4 linked regions of the Homo sapiens genome follow. The protein of the gene in region 1 purifies or fractionates together with the protein of each later gene. This does not show direct contact. Each region holds a gene or a part of one and is shown on either strand. Other genes may lie near its edges.

Region 1 (3,300 bases):
GCAGCCAGACTCTTCCAACCCTTGTAAGGGGACACAAAATCTAGAAGGATCTGACCCTCACAGCTTCCCGATGCACAAGGCTGGGAAGGTAAGCTAGTTCAAGTCCAGGCATATCTATGGAACCAAAACCCTATAGAAGCCCCAAACTCAGAGACAGAAGTATTAGCAAGTTCCAAATCAGGGTCCCATTGACACCTGCGCTATCTACTGTAATCACTTCTTTGTTTTGAAATAGGATCTCTGGCCCCCATTACTGTCACTGGTGCTGCCAGAGAATGACAATGAGCTTAAATGTCATAGGGATTTGGGGAGCAATTTTCTTTTTTTTTTTTTTCAGCCTATTATAATTTTTTTTTATGACTGAACTACTATAAATCCACAAGCAACGGTTCAGACACGTTGCTTCTGAAGTGTTTCACCCCTCCCCGCCAGGCGCAAGCTGCATCAAGGAGGGGGTGGACTCCCCCACCTCTGCTCAGGCATCAGGAGACAGATAGGGCCGTTACTGCTGAGCGCCAGTGGCAGCTGGAACAGGCATCCCAAGGGGGTTGGCAGCAGCAATCACTGGTGAGCCTGCCAGAGGTCCAAGGGGTGAAGGAGTTGGCACTGAAGAAATCCCTGACATCACATTGGCGCTGCTGACGGGCGTACTGCCCCCTGGCATGCTAGATGAACCCATTCGAGCCTGGTCCTTCACAACAGTGTAGAAATAGGGGTGCTCCATGGCCTCTCTTGCAGTAAGCCGTGACTGGTGGTCATATCGCAGCAGTTTGTCCAGGAAATCCAAGGCCTCAGGGCTGACAAGGTGCTGATTTTCACTGTGGACAAAGCGTTCCCATCGCTTTCGAGAGTGTCTGCCCAAGATATCATTGAAACGTGGATCTAATTCAATGTTGTATTTGTCAATATAGCCATATAAATCTTCTGTCCCCAGAAACTTGGCTATCCTCACCAACTGATCATAATTGTCACGTCCATGGAAAAATGGCTCCTTCCGAAAGATCATACTTGCCAGCATACAACCCAATCTCCACATATCCAAACTATAATCGTACATCTGATAGTCTACAAGTAGCTCAGGACCTTTGAAGTATCGGGAAGCAACTCGGACATTATATTCTTGGCCAGGATGATAAAACTCAGCCAAACCCCAGTCTATTAGTCGTAGCTTTCTGTGCTCATGATCAATCATGACATTATGGGGCTTGACATCTCTGTGCATAATTCCCATGCTGTGACAATAATCCAGGGCCTTCAGAATCTCATACATGTAAAATCGAATATCATAGTCTGTTAACGTCTGGTACAATTGCTTGAAGTCTGTGTTGTTTACGTGTTCAAAAACCAAGGCGGGGGTTCGTGACACAGGGTCTTTTACAATGTCTGCCAGTGTGATGATGTTGGGACCTCCTCTCAAATTCTCCAAAATCTTTATTTCACGCTTAATTTTCTTCTTTTTTACTGGCTTGAGAATTTTAACAACAACTTTTTCATTATTTGTGATGTTGATGGCTTCAAATACTTCACTGTATTTACCTCGGCCTAATTTTCGAACCAGCTGGTAGTCATCTTGATTTCCCCATTCCACCACATGTGACTCGTAATCCCAGTATTCTCGAGGTCTGTGTGTATTAACATCTGTGTAAACTCTGGCCCTGCTTGGCACGGGTCCCGACATGTCAGACAGGTTGGCGGACAAAGCTGGACTTGATGTTTGGAGATCTGGCAGTCACTGTGTTCAGAAGCAGCTTGGGGGTAAGACCTTGTTTCAGACCTGTTTTCTTCACACTGTGGTGGAAGCGGCAGCGGCTGTGGCCGCTCTCCCTTCTGCTCACACAGACAATATGGCGGCGATGGAGTGGGGAGCAATTTTCTAAAATCCAAATAAAAACCTTCCCATCTCTAATCTGAGAGTCATTTTTATCAGCTAACTGGGCTCATCTATTTACTCAGCATATTCAGAGCCCTTTTTGGGGGTTAAGTCCCTTTCAATTGCTGTGAGGCACCGTCTCCTTGTGGACATGCTTGTGCTATCCAGCTGCTATTCAAAGCACATCTCCTGGACCATGTTTAATTTATACTTTCCTATATGAAGATGAACCACTTACTCACTTAAAGTATTTCTTTTTTTATGTCTCTAATCAGTGGCTGTTTCTTTCCTCTCTCTGAAGCTTAATCGAATCAGAAACAAATCCCACACATATGAATGGCTCATTAGCATGTCCCAGTCAGATTCAAATTGGCCGTCCATACCAGATGCCCCCAAAAGGATAACACTGGCCCAAAGAAGGACTCTTTAAACGAGTGTCCAAAGGGTGTTGCCATGATAAGCCAGGAGGGTTCTTTCTGAAATCCAGGGTAGATACACTCTGTCATTCCCAGCACCATAGAGCCAACTGATGGCAGGTAATGGATGTGTCATTGAGATGGGGTTGGTGGGAGGCAATGTGGCCAAGCCTGGGGAGCAGACATCAGAGGAATGTCTGGTGTCTATGTGTCTGGCTCAAGCATCATCCTCACACTTGGCTCAGTGGGGCCCTTTTATCAAATGATACAAATGAGGCTGAGATGCTGAACATTCTCTCGCTCAGAAATGATATTTGTTCTAAAGAGCTTCCCCTCTTAATCAAATGAAACTCAGATTATAAACACTGGTATGCTACATCTTCTCTTAAAGGATTTGCTCTTTTCATAGACATCAGAATGAATCGTCAGCATGGGCATCATCACTGGTGTCATCTCTGAAAGTCACCGATAGCAAACTCTCATTTAATACAGATTTACAAAAGAGATCAGCATACTGCAATAGAGTAGAACTGAAGGGAACCTAACCAGGACCTCCCTTCATTTCCCAGGTGAGCAAACTAAGGTTCAGGGTCACAGGATAATTTAGAAGCACAGTAAGATATGGATCCAAGAGCCTGCCTTTTGGAAGACAGGAAGTCATTATGGTTCAGAGCATAGCCTCTGGGGCCAAACAGTCTTGGTGTCAAGTCCTACATTTCCCATTTGCTGAACTGGTGACTTTAGGCAATTCACTTCACCTTCCAACACTCAGTTTCCTTGTCTATGAAATGGAGATAAAAGTGATAAATTCCAAAGATAGTTGCTGTGAGAATTAAATGAAGTAATACACAGAGACAGTTTATTTCATCACCTGGAAGAAGTTTAGAGGCCCCTAAGTATCAGCTATAATTATTATCACTATAATATTCCACTGATGATAAGATTCACTATTGCTATACCACAGCTTTTCGGGACAGGGGAAAACACACTACATTCCTCTGAGCTCAAGATTTA
Region 2 (2,871 bases), about 91 Mb from region 1:
AACTCTCTCATGATGTACTTCTACCACAGGACAGAAGGAGTAGACTACTAGAGAAATTTCCACCAGCAATTAAATGTTCCAGTCTGAAAATGATATTTGTCACTTCTTCACTCAACCCTCTGGCTAGAAGTAGTCAGATGCCCCACTGCCCACCACCCAACTCTGCAAGGAGTTGGACTGTGGGAAAATGGAACCCTCCCATATGTTCAGAAGAGACAAAATGACATACACCTAGAACGCTCTACCATGATGTCACTGATTTTACCTAAAACCACTTTTGGAATCCATAAATGGGGCAAGGGAAATGGATTCCCCTCCCCCACCCCAGTTTATATGGTATAAATTCCATGTGAATAGAGAATAGTTGAGTTTTTTGTATATCCTCATTTCCCACATGAACATTTTTTATATTGTCTACTTCCCATTTCAAATTTGAAAAGCAGTCTCTGTAAGGGTGGCGTTGTCATCAGAAAGTAACAATAATAAATATAGAAAGTGTATAAAACAGTAGAAACAAGGTTGACTTTATTCCAAACATAAAACACTTATTTTGTGTTAGAAGAGTTATCCCTTGCCTATCCAGGGTGACACCAGTGACTGCACATGTGTTCTTGAGCTGCTTTTCCTCCGGCAAAGACTCATGTCTCCTGTCTCTTTCTGTCTTGAAAGGATATGTTTGTCACTGAAGCTGCTCTCTGGGATCAACGTCAGAGTTGCATACTCTGGAAAAGATCTTTGCAACTCTGGCCTATATGAATCCATAAGCCACAAACTTGACTTTTTGTACCCACCATTTGTGGAACTAAATTATATCAGTACAAAAAGGGCTACATTCTAAATAGTAAAAAAATATGCAAACTGAGGTATAAATAAGATTATATTCTGTGTATCAGTGACTCTAGAGGTTAAAAATGACTGAGAAAATAGACAGTTCTTCAGGAAAACACCTTCTTTGGACTCACACCATGTGTTTTCCATTCAAATTAGTAATGTTCAATTTTTCCTGCAGTTGAACCAGCTATTAGCTTTCTGGAGAGTCAAAATTCTCTTCGTTTTAGGATCAAATTTGTATTGTCTTGTTCCATGAAAGAAATAGAAAAATCCTAGAAACAAAACAAAAGAGACTTACTACATTATACAAGTAGTTTCTAGGTTTAACTTGAATTCTTGAGAAACCAATTCATCTGTGAGCACAGATATTTTTGGCATTTGCTGTTCCAACTAACAATAATGATGTTATTGCTACGGCAATGAAATGGAGGAAATACATGTATATTCACTTACCATCTTTCATGAAAACTGCATCAACTTTGTGGCCAATTCCAGGAAAGTCATGTGCTATCATTTTGGGATAACCTGGATCCATAGATCGTTTATATTCATCATACCTGGTCAGAAAAGAGTTAAGAGTGTCAGACCTTTTGCTAAACATGTGCACTCTGAAAATCATTACAGAAAATACACAATGAGGAATTTAACCAGAATATTTCATTTTATAGATCATTTGTGAAATGGGGAGTGGATGGGATAAGGTGGAATGTTGGGTGAACTAAAAGGCCTTTAAGGCCCCTCTGAAATCCAGCATCGAATTCTCCAGTAGGTTCTACGCTATGTCCTATCGAGGTAACATACTATGGAAGATAAGTAACTTTTGGCCAAAGTAGCTCCGTTAAGATGAATGTCCTCAATTCTACATCCTTTTAAAATTCATCCCCCTACATTCTCTGGATTCCCAGTGCAGGCATTGTGTGATGATTATTGGTCAATAGACTAAATAGATGATAGATTGGCACCAGCCATCTGAAGGAAAGGATGCCGGCCAAGGCAGTTTGAGACTCACTTTGAAATGGGCTATTCTAGAACTTTTTATGTAGAAAGAACTGAGGCCCTAACATTCTCTGCACTTAAACTTACCTCCAGTATTTGTTAGCAACAAAGAAGTAGGTTTTTCCAGTGTTTTCCTCAGAAAGAGCAGCATCGATATGCTTCACAGTTCTAGGGAAGCCAAAGGAGCTGTAGATGTCCTTGGGGTATCCGTGTAGCACATTCTGTCCCTGAACAGCCCAGTACTTATTCCCTGCCAATCAAGAAAGAGTGATAAAACACTTGCCTAAGACTTCAATAGGCAGTAAGTGAATTTTCAGCTAAGTTCTTAGTTTCACATGCTAGTGCAGTACCCTGGCTGCAGATTAGAATCATCTAGGGAGATTTTTGAAAATACTGATGCCAGGACCCTATCCCAGACCAATTAAATGTGTCTATCTTTGGAAGCTTCTTAGTTGATTCTAATCTGCAGCAAGCTTTGAGAATGACTTGTTTATGGAGTTGGGGGCTTCTTTCCACAGTCAGATGTTCAAATGACTAAAGAGTTAGTTATGCCACCTTGGTGATATAAACTTCGGTTCTCCAGGTTTGCTCATGGACTGTGGAAGTTCAAACCATTTGTATCATAAAGGGTGAAGTGCTGTAGTGACTCATAACCTGTAAGGGTTTGCAATCCTGGATTCAAATCACTGCATTTGACTAGAAGATAGTTCCAAATACTTGAATTAATGCTGTGTCCAGATTCCGTGTTTATACTCAGTAAGCCCCTCATCACATAAAGCTGGTCTCATATACTAAAGCCAAGATTTCTGTTACTGTACACACGTGCTATTTACCCCTCATGAAAAAGGAATTTGAAACTTTCTGTCTCTAACATCCATTTAATTTCATAATTTAAAGGCTAAAAATCCTGTTTCAAAGCGTTTGGCCCATCTGACCTGCATTTAATTCTTTGCCTTGAGTGTATGGCTGAGTCAAATGTCTTACTCATTGTACTACGTTAAACACACGTTTGCAAAAATATTGGTGCGTGGCATAGTGTCTCGA
Region 3 (3,500 bases), about 21 Mb from region 1:
TCAATAACAAATGCTTCAACATCATCAGCTCCAATCTGAAGTTCTTGCTGCATTGTGTCAAAAGAAATTTCCTTATTTTCTACTGCCATTCCCATAAAAGTAAGTAGTCTCATTTTTGCCATATTCTGTTCATGTAACAGGCCTAGAAAACAGAATAGTGAAGCCTGATGAGTGTTCATACTAATTAAAGACCTGCACAATTACATCTCATGTTAAGCTGTGGAAATTATTTTTACTTTTGTAATTGTGGAAATTATTGTTTGAGCACTTATATAGAACAATTTTGACAAAGCTTCTTATATTTGCAAACTATAAACTGACTCCACAGAGTATTAAAAACAATTTTTCTATAGTACCATAGGTGATAGATTCAAAGTTAAGAATCGGCCATAAAATGATTATTTTTAGACCCTAAAAGTTTTGCACATTTTACATTTTTAAATAGTTATACATTTTAGGAGATAAAATCTACAAAGTACATTTCATAAGAACAATTTCTATTTAGTTAAATTACCTAAGCTTATTTTTCACACTAATAGCTCTTCATTTAAACACAGAGGATTTCTTATCTACTTATTAGTTTTTTCTGTGTTACTATTACTGGTAAACCTGAAGTTTTAAAATACTTTCACAAACATTTTCAGTTATGAAAACATTCCATTTTGCTTCAGGTCACTATTTAAAAATCAAAACTACTTACAAACCAAAACTGTCAAAGTGTGTGTGTCATTTAACATTTATAGGCCAATACAGTTAGTACTAGATATAATTAAAGAATACCATTAAAAGTGATACTTGTTCTTTATAAGACAAAAGTAGAAAATTGCACAAATAATTCAAATTTTGCATTATAATTTCTAATGAAACATGCTGTTGTAATTATTCAAATAACAACAATGTGTTAGGCCTAGAAGAAAACTTAAGGAATTACCCAGTCCTGATCCTTTCACTTTAAAAACAAAACTGAGGAGCAAAGAGATTAAATGGGGACTTATAGTCAAAAAATAGCAGTGCTAGGCCTAGAATAGGTTCATTTCTAAAATAAAGGGCTAGAAATTTTAAAAATTAGGAATCCTAAATATATAACCTAGTCCTAAGTAGGAGCAGAATTCTAACATAATATCATATATACTTGTTTTGATGCTAACTTATTAATTATAAAACTAAGTTTCTAAAACTAATCTAGATTTACATGTTCCTTTTCTCTGAACTTTTGAACTATGTAAAATCAGCAAATGATCAATCAAGTGCCCTGTAATAAATTCAGAGCTTCAAGTCTGTATTGTTTAAAAAGTTCACTCTCTAAACACTCCATAAATAAATTTTAAATTTATAACATTCATATATTAGTGGAAGATTAGGGAAGCCCATTAACATAGGACATGATCATCTGTTAATTAGCTGTAATTATGATACAGGCTTCCTATTTGGCACAGATTCAACAAAAACATGATCACCATAACTCAAATGAATGAGGTATACAAGGAAGTATTGCTAACTGGGTTTAATGGAAATCTACAGGCGCCAAGAAATCAATTAGTGCACATTAACCCTAATTAACAATGCAAATTAGATGCCGATTAACTTTCTGAAGCAAAAGGTAGCAACTGGATAACACCAGATTACATGTGGACATGTTAGGGCAATTCAGTTGACACAAGATAATGCTACTGTTGGCCTAAGTTGTCAGTGTTAATAAAGGAAAATGTTCTGACAAACTGATTGCAACTTGTGGAATCTAGATAGTTGTCACTAGGCTTTCAGCTGTAATAAATGTTTAATTATAGAATTAAAATAAAAAATATACACATTAATATAAAGATGTTTTCTGAAAAGCATATAAACAAATTTCTAATAGAATACTGATTTGCATAGATGTTCAAGAAACGTAAGGCAAATGAAGGAATTTGAATTCTAGCTGGCACAATAAATTAGCAATGTTAACGAATTTTTTCTTATCAATGAATAAGTATTAAAGATTTTTTTCAAAAATTCCTTAACATTCTCAGTTCTATTGGCATGGACAGACAACTCTCTTTCAATATAAAGTGATAGAAACTTCTGAAATTTCTATTATTTTAAATACTCCTGAAATTAAATCTATTTTACTGCTTATCTTTTCTGCAGTTACAATCTTACCATAAATGAAAAAACTTATCAGAGGAATGAAGATTATTTCTAGGCTGAATTCCATAAAACCGTTATCTATTTTACATGTGAAAACTTGCATCTAAAAACACTTTAAATTGATGTTTAAAGTAACAAAGAACCAAACTTAAAACCCTTAGGACTCTTGTTCTGAAAAATCAAACTACTAAGGCAGTGAAGTATGAGTTAAAGACTTTGTAGGAAGCTGTGCTTTGTTTCATAAAACTAAAATACTACCATCAAAGAGGAAGTCACAGTGTACTGTGTCATATTTCAATTTTAAAGTTATAAAAAATCTAATTTTATGGAAACATTTATTCATTACTAATATGTCAAAACCTTAATGCAGTAATAAAAAAAGTGCATCATTGAGCAATTTCTGCATTGTCACTGACCCCTGTCTTAAAATGCTGCAATATAGAAAACCCAGTTTTAATGCATGCAATAGCTTATGAACCAGTGCTCCTTTGAAACAGTCAATTACACATCAATGGGGGAGTGTCAAAGTGTTAATTACTACTCCTTTTTCCTTGGTGCGTAAATAAAGAGGTTGCTGACATTAACATTCCATCACATAGCTTCATGCCACAAAACAAATTAACTGGGACAGAATGTGGTTTTCTGGGTCTAGTGCACCTGGCAAAGCTTTCTACACAAACACACTTACATCTACTTTATCTTGGTGTATTTCAAATGCCTTATTATGTTCAGAATAAGTCAATCTTCCCCAATTCCAATGGAGGCACACAATTTACAGGTGACAAGCATTAATGATTACCAAATTGAAGACTATCAAAATAGACCATACATTCATCTGTATCGTCAAGAACCAGGAAGACTAGTCTCAAAAACAAAAAAAAATTCAGTCTTAATATGGAAAATATAATCAATCTCTAATGTGTTTTGATTATTGCCTAGTAGGAGAACAAAGCACCTTAGTTTCACAGTTGACTCCAGTGTAAAGAAACTGGTAGTTTACAACATTTAAAACCTGTTCAACTGCAGATTTTCTGAGTTTTCTCTTTGTATTTTAGTATGTTAAAAACATGCTCCAGAAGGAAATTAAAATATTGAACATATGTAGGGTTTGCTCAATAAGGATGAATAAGATTTGATTCAATTTGACAAACATTTACTGAACTGATACGCTAGACAAGAAAATTCAAAGATAAAAATAATAAAGACTATGCTGTTTTCAACAAACGTAGTTAGAAAAGTCTTACTATCATGTAAAATTACATTTCCATTTCTAATTCCATCTTTCAGATCTAACTGGCAATACTATATACTTTTGTAATTTGTTAATGGCGGGGGTATCCAAGCATAAAATAGTATAGTAGGGGGGAAAAAAC
Region 4 (3,992 bases), on another chromosome or scaffold:
TTCTCTGTGTGTCTCTGTGTCCTCTCCTCTTCTCTTTTTTTTGGAGACAGAGTCGCTCTTTCGCCCAGGCTGGAGTGCAGTGGCACCATCTCAGCTGACCGCAACCTCCGCCTCCCAGGTTCAAGCGATTCTCCTGACTCAGCCTCCCCAGTAGCTGGGTGGGCACCTCCCCAGTACAGGTGCCCACCACCACGCCTGGCTAATTTTTGTATTTTTGGTAGAGATAGGATTTCACCATGTTAGCCAGGCTGGTCTTGAACTCCTGGCCTCAGATGATCTGCCCACCTCGGCCTTCCAAAGTGCTGGGATTGCAGGTGTGAGCCACCACACCCACTATCTCTCGTCTTCTTTTTTTAATTTTAGTTTGTTTATTTTTGAGACAAGGTCTTGCTCTGTTGCCCAGGCTGGAGTGCAGTGGTACAATCATAGCTCACTGCAACCACAACCTCCCAGGCTCAAGTGATCCTCCCGCCTGTGCCTCTTGAGTGGCTGGGACTATAGGCGCATGCCACAATGCCTGGTTCATTAAAAAATTTTTTTGTGTGTAGAGATGGGATCCCCCTATGTTGCCCAGGCTGGTCCCAAACTCCTGGCTTCAAGCAATCCTCCATCTTGGCCTCCCAGAGTGCTGAGATTATAGGCGTGAGCCACTGCACCTGGCCGTCACTTTTCGTCTTTTTAAAATTGAATTAAATTAATTAATTAATTAATTTAGAGACAGGCTCTCTGTCACGCAGGCTGGAGTCCAGTGGCGCAATCTCGGCTCACTGCAACCTCTGCCTCCCAGGTTCAAGCGATCCTTCTGCCTCAGTCTCCTGAGTAGCTGGGATTACAGGCGCCAGCCACCAAGCCCAGCTAATTTTTGTATTTTTGGTAGAGATGGGGTTTTACCATGTTGCTCAGGCTGGTGTTGAACTCCTGGGCTCAAGTGATCCATCCGCCTTGGCCTCTTAAAGTGCTGGGATTACAGGCGTGAGCCACCAGGCCTGGCCTCTCCTTATCTTATGAGGACACCACCCACACTGGATGTAAGGCCCACCCTTCTCCAAAGTGACCTCCGCTAGTGACAGTTGTAACAACCCTATTTCCAAATAAGGTCACATTCTGAGGTCCCAGGAAGGACGTGAAGTGGGGGAAGGGACCCTGTTCGACCCAGTACAGCCTTCCCCACTTTGTGTCACTGGAGCAAAGAGGAGTGGGTGCCCATGCCCCGGCTGCCCCCTTCCGCAGAGGCCTTGGAGGCCACGGTGTCCCCCGGCGACCGTTGGAAGAGCCCTGCCCGCACCTTGTCCCTGAACTCGGCCGACACGTAGTAGTAGATGAAGGGATCCACGCAGCTGTTGAGGGTGCTCAGCGCCAGGCTGGGCACGTAGGCACCATAGAGGTTGCCCCAGGCGCTGGGGCTCGGGTCCGAGTAATGCAGCAGCAGCAGCAGGTTGCTGGGCACGAAGAAGGCCACGGCGGAGGCCAGCACCACTGCGGTCAGCCTCAGCGCGTGGCCGTAGCGCCGGCCGCTGGCCGCCAGCGTGTGCAGGGTGGCCCCGTAGCACAGCAGCATGGCCAGCAGGGGCAGGAAACAGCCCAACAGCGCCAGGCAGGTGAAGGCCGGTTGCCAGTGGGAGGCCTGTGCGTCCAGGGGCAGCGCGTCATGGCAGAGCACGCGATCGGAGCGCGCCAGCCGGAAGGTCTGCCGCTGCAGTGTCAGGGGCAGTGCCAGGGCGGCCGCCATGAGCCAAGCAGCCATGCAGAGTCCAAGGGCCAGGCGCCGGCCACGCAGGGCGCGGGCCCGCAGCGGGTGCACCAGGGCCAGGTAGCGATCCAGGCTGACGGCGGCCAGCAGCAGCACTGAGCCATACATGTGACCATAGAGTGCGGCCGTGGCCAGGCGGCAGGCGGCCTCCCCGAAGGGCCAGCGCTGGCCACGCAGGTGGTAGGCGATCCGCGGGGGCAGCGCCAGGGCCAGCAGGAGGTCAGCAGCCGCGAGGTTCATCAGCAGCATGGTGGAGGGCAGCCGAGGTGCCTGCGTGGCCAGCACCCACAGCGCCAGCCCATTGGCCGGCAGCCCCACCACCAGGACCAGCCCATAGAGGGCGGGCACCAGCCTGGTGGGCACCCAGCCCAGAAGCAGTGCCCGTGAGCTGTCCGGGAGCTCCAGGGTGTCACTGTCATTGGCACAGACTTGGCCTGGGTAGCCGCGGGGGGCAGGCAGGATTGAGGGCGTGCTGTCTGGGAGAGAGAGGGGACCTCAGTCAGCCCCTGCCTCGGCAGGTGACGAGAAGCAGCAGGGAGGGAGGTGCTCAGAGCCTGGGGTCTGCCCTGGTGGGAAACAGCTGGACATGACACTCAAGGGAATAGCCCAGCCCTATGGGGTCAGAGACGGGATACAGAGTGGGCTGGGCTGAAGCCCGCAACTTCCCGGCCTCCCCCTCCCCAGCTCCGGGCCCCCAGCTCCATCTCTGATGTAACCCCATCTCTGCACCCCAAAGCCAGGACCACTCACCATCACCACCTCCGGTGCTCCCGCTCTCGTCGTAGACGCTGGGGGTCTGGGTGCCGCCAGACAGGCTGAACCCCAGCACCAGGGGCCACAGGAGCAGTCGCCCCCACATGACTGCACTCAGGCTGCTCTGGGCTGTGGCCTCAGGCTTCCTGCCTCGCCGGACCCTGAGCCCCAGCTTCTGGAGCCGAGGCGGACGAGCAGATCGCGCCGGTAGAGATAAACCAGGAAGGCTGCCCCTGCCCCCGCAGACCCACCAGGGCCGCTTGCCAGCCAGCCCGTGGGAGGACTGGAGTGTGGGTTATGGAGACCGGGCTGCCCCACGTGGCTATATCCAGTGTGGCGCCTCCCAGGGACCCAGGTGCCAGGCCAGCAAGATGCAGGGGGGGGGGTCCCAGCTGCAGCCAGCACCCCCGGTCCCTGACCAGCCCAGGAAGCATCTGCGGTTCAAGTGGCCACTTCCTGCCAGCCGCTCACATCTGCAGCCACTGTTCTCACGACAGCCCTGTCCTCACCCCAATCCCCACGCCCATCACGGGCTCTGGGCCTTTCCTGAAGTCACCCCCCGACTTCCTATCTCTGGTGAGCAGGATAAGAAGAGCCCTGCTAGGCCAGGCACGGTGGCTCACGGCTGTAATCCCAACATTTTGGGAGGCCAAGGCAGGCAAATCACCTGAGGTTGGGAGTTTGAGACCGGCCTGACCAACATGGAGAAACCCCATCTCTCATAAAAATACAAAAATTAGCTGGGCTTGGTGGCAGATGCCTGTGGTCCCAGCTACTCAGGAGGCTGAGGTGGGAGAATTGCTTGAACCCAGGAGGTGGAGGTTGCAGTGAGCCGAGATCTTGCCACTGCACTCCAGCCTGGGCAACAGAGCGAGACTCGGCAAAAAAAAAAAAAAAAACCAAGGATGGGCGCCTCCCAGAGGGTAATAGCGAGGGTCCCTTCAGACCCCCAGAGCAGCACGAGCCCAGCGTCAGGGACTCTGGCTGAACCTCGAGAGCCCCTCAGCATCCTCGGCTGACCCCATACTCACAAGGCACCCCTGTATGAGTGCCTCACTTCACTCTTGCCCAGGGGACACACGGGCATCTGTAGGGGAGACAGTGATGCTGGGGACAGCACCTGCCGAGGACCGGGGGGACTTCGGGGTGTGTGGCTCGCCTGCTCTGACCTCTGACCCTGAGTGAGGTGGCCAGGTTGAAGGGTCCCCAAGCCAGCCTCCAGGGGGCCTCCCTCCTCTAGCCCCAGCACATCCCCACTCCTGGGTACCATTGGATGGGGGCTCATCGGGCAGATGAAGAAACTGAAGCTCGGGGGGGTACCCCTTCCCTCTTCTGCACAAGGCCCCTCAGTGTTGTCCCTCCCTGCCTCAGAGAGGCCTCAACCCGTCGTGCCCTGGGGGAGTCTGGTATGGGTGGTTCTGGCCCCAGTGTGCTCAGCGCTGGGCTACAGGGGATGGGGGACAGGGCTTGGGGGGGTCTGGGAGCAGGA

The links.
Region 2: the proteins of CSNK2A3 (region 1) and MMP1 purify together in Homo sapiens (affinity purification with mass spectrometry, with the first as the bait; one large-scale study listed by BioGRID). This does not show direct contact.
Region 3: the proteins of CSNK2A3 (region 1) and EIF3M purify together in Homo sapiens (affinity purification with mass spectrometry, with the first as the bait; one large-scale study listed by BioGRID). This does not show direct contact.
Region 4: the proteins of CSNK2A3 (region 1) and F2RL3 purify together in Homo sapiens (affinity purification with mass spectrometry, with the first as the bait; one large-scale study listed by BioGRID). This does not show direct contact.

The regions. Positions count from the first base shown.
Region 1 is NC_000011.10:11,351,442-11,354,741, forward strand, and holds CSNK2A3 (casein kinase II subunit alpha 3), read right to left. Parts: upstream 1,810-3,300; 5' UTR 1,679-1,809; coding exon 503-1,678; 3' UTR 501-502; downstream 1-500. UniProt on the Homo sapiens protein: Probable catalytic subunit of a constitutively active serine/threonine-protein kinase complex that phosphorylates a large number of substrates containing acidic residues C-terminal to the phosphorylated serine or threonine.
Region 2 is NC_000011.10:102,789,419-102,792,289, forward strand, and holds the end of MMP1 (interstitial collagenase isoform 1 preproprotein), read right to left. Parts: intron 2,078-2,871; coding exon 1,915-2,077; intron 1,389-1,914; coding exon 1,285-1,388; intron 1,104-1,284; coding exon 994-1,103; 3' UTR 501-993; downstream 1-500. UniProt on the Homo sapiens protein: Cleaves collagens of types I, II, and III at one site in the helical domain. Also cleaves collagens of types VII and X.
Region 3 is NC_000011.10:32,597,331-32,600,830, reverse strand, and holds part of EIF3M (eukaryotic translation initiation factor 3 subunit M), read right to left. Parts: intron 143-3,500; coding exon 1-142. UniProt on the Homo sapiens protein: Component of the eukaryotic translation initiation factor 3 (eIF-3) complex, which is required for several steps in the initiation of protein synthesis.
Region 4 is NC_000019.10:16,887,807-16,891,798, reverse strand, and holds the start of F2RL3 (proteinase-activated receptor 4 preproprotein), read right to left. Parts: upstream 2,801-3,992; 5' UTR 2,610-2,800; coding exon 2,501-2,609; intron 2,227-2,500; coding exon 1,178-2,226; 3' UTR 1-1,177. UniProt on the Homo sapiens protein: Receptor for activated thrombin or trypsin coupled to G proteins that stimulate phosphoinositide hydrolysis. May play a role in platelets activation.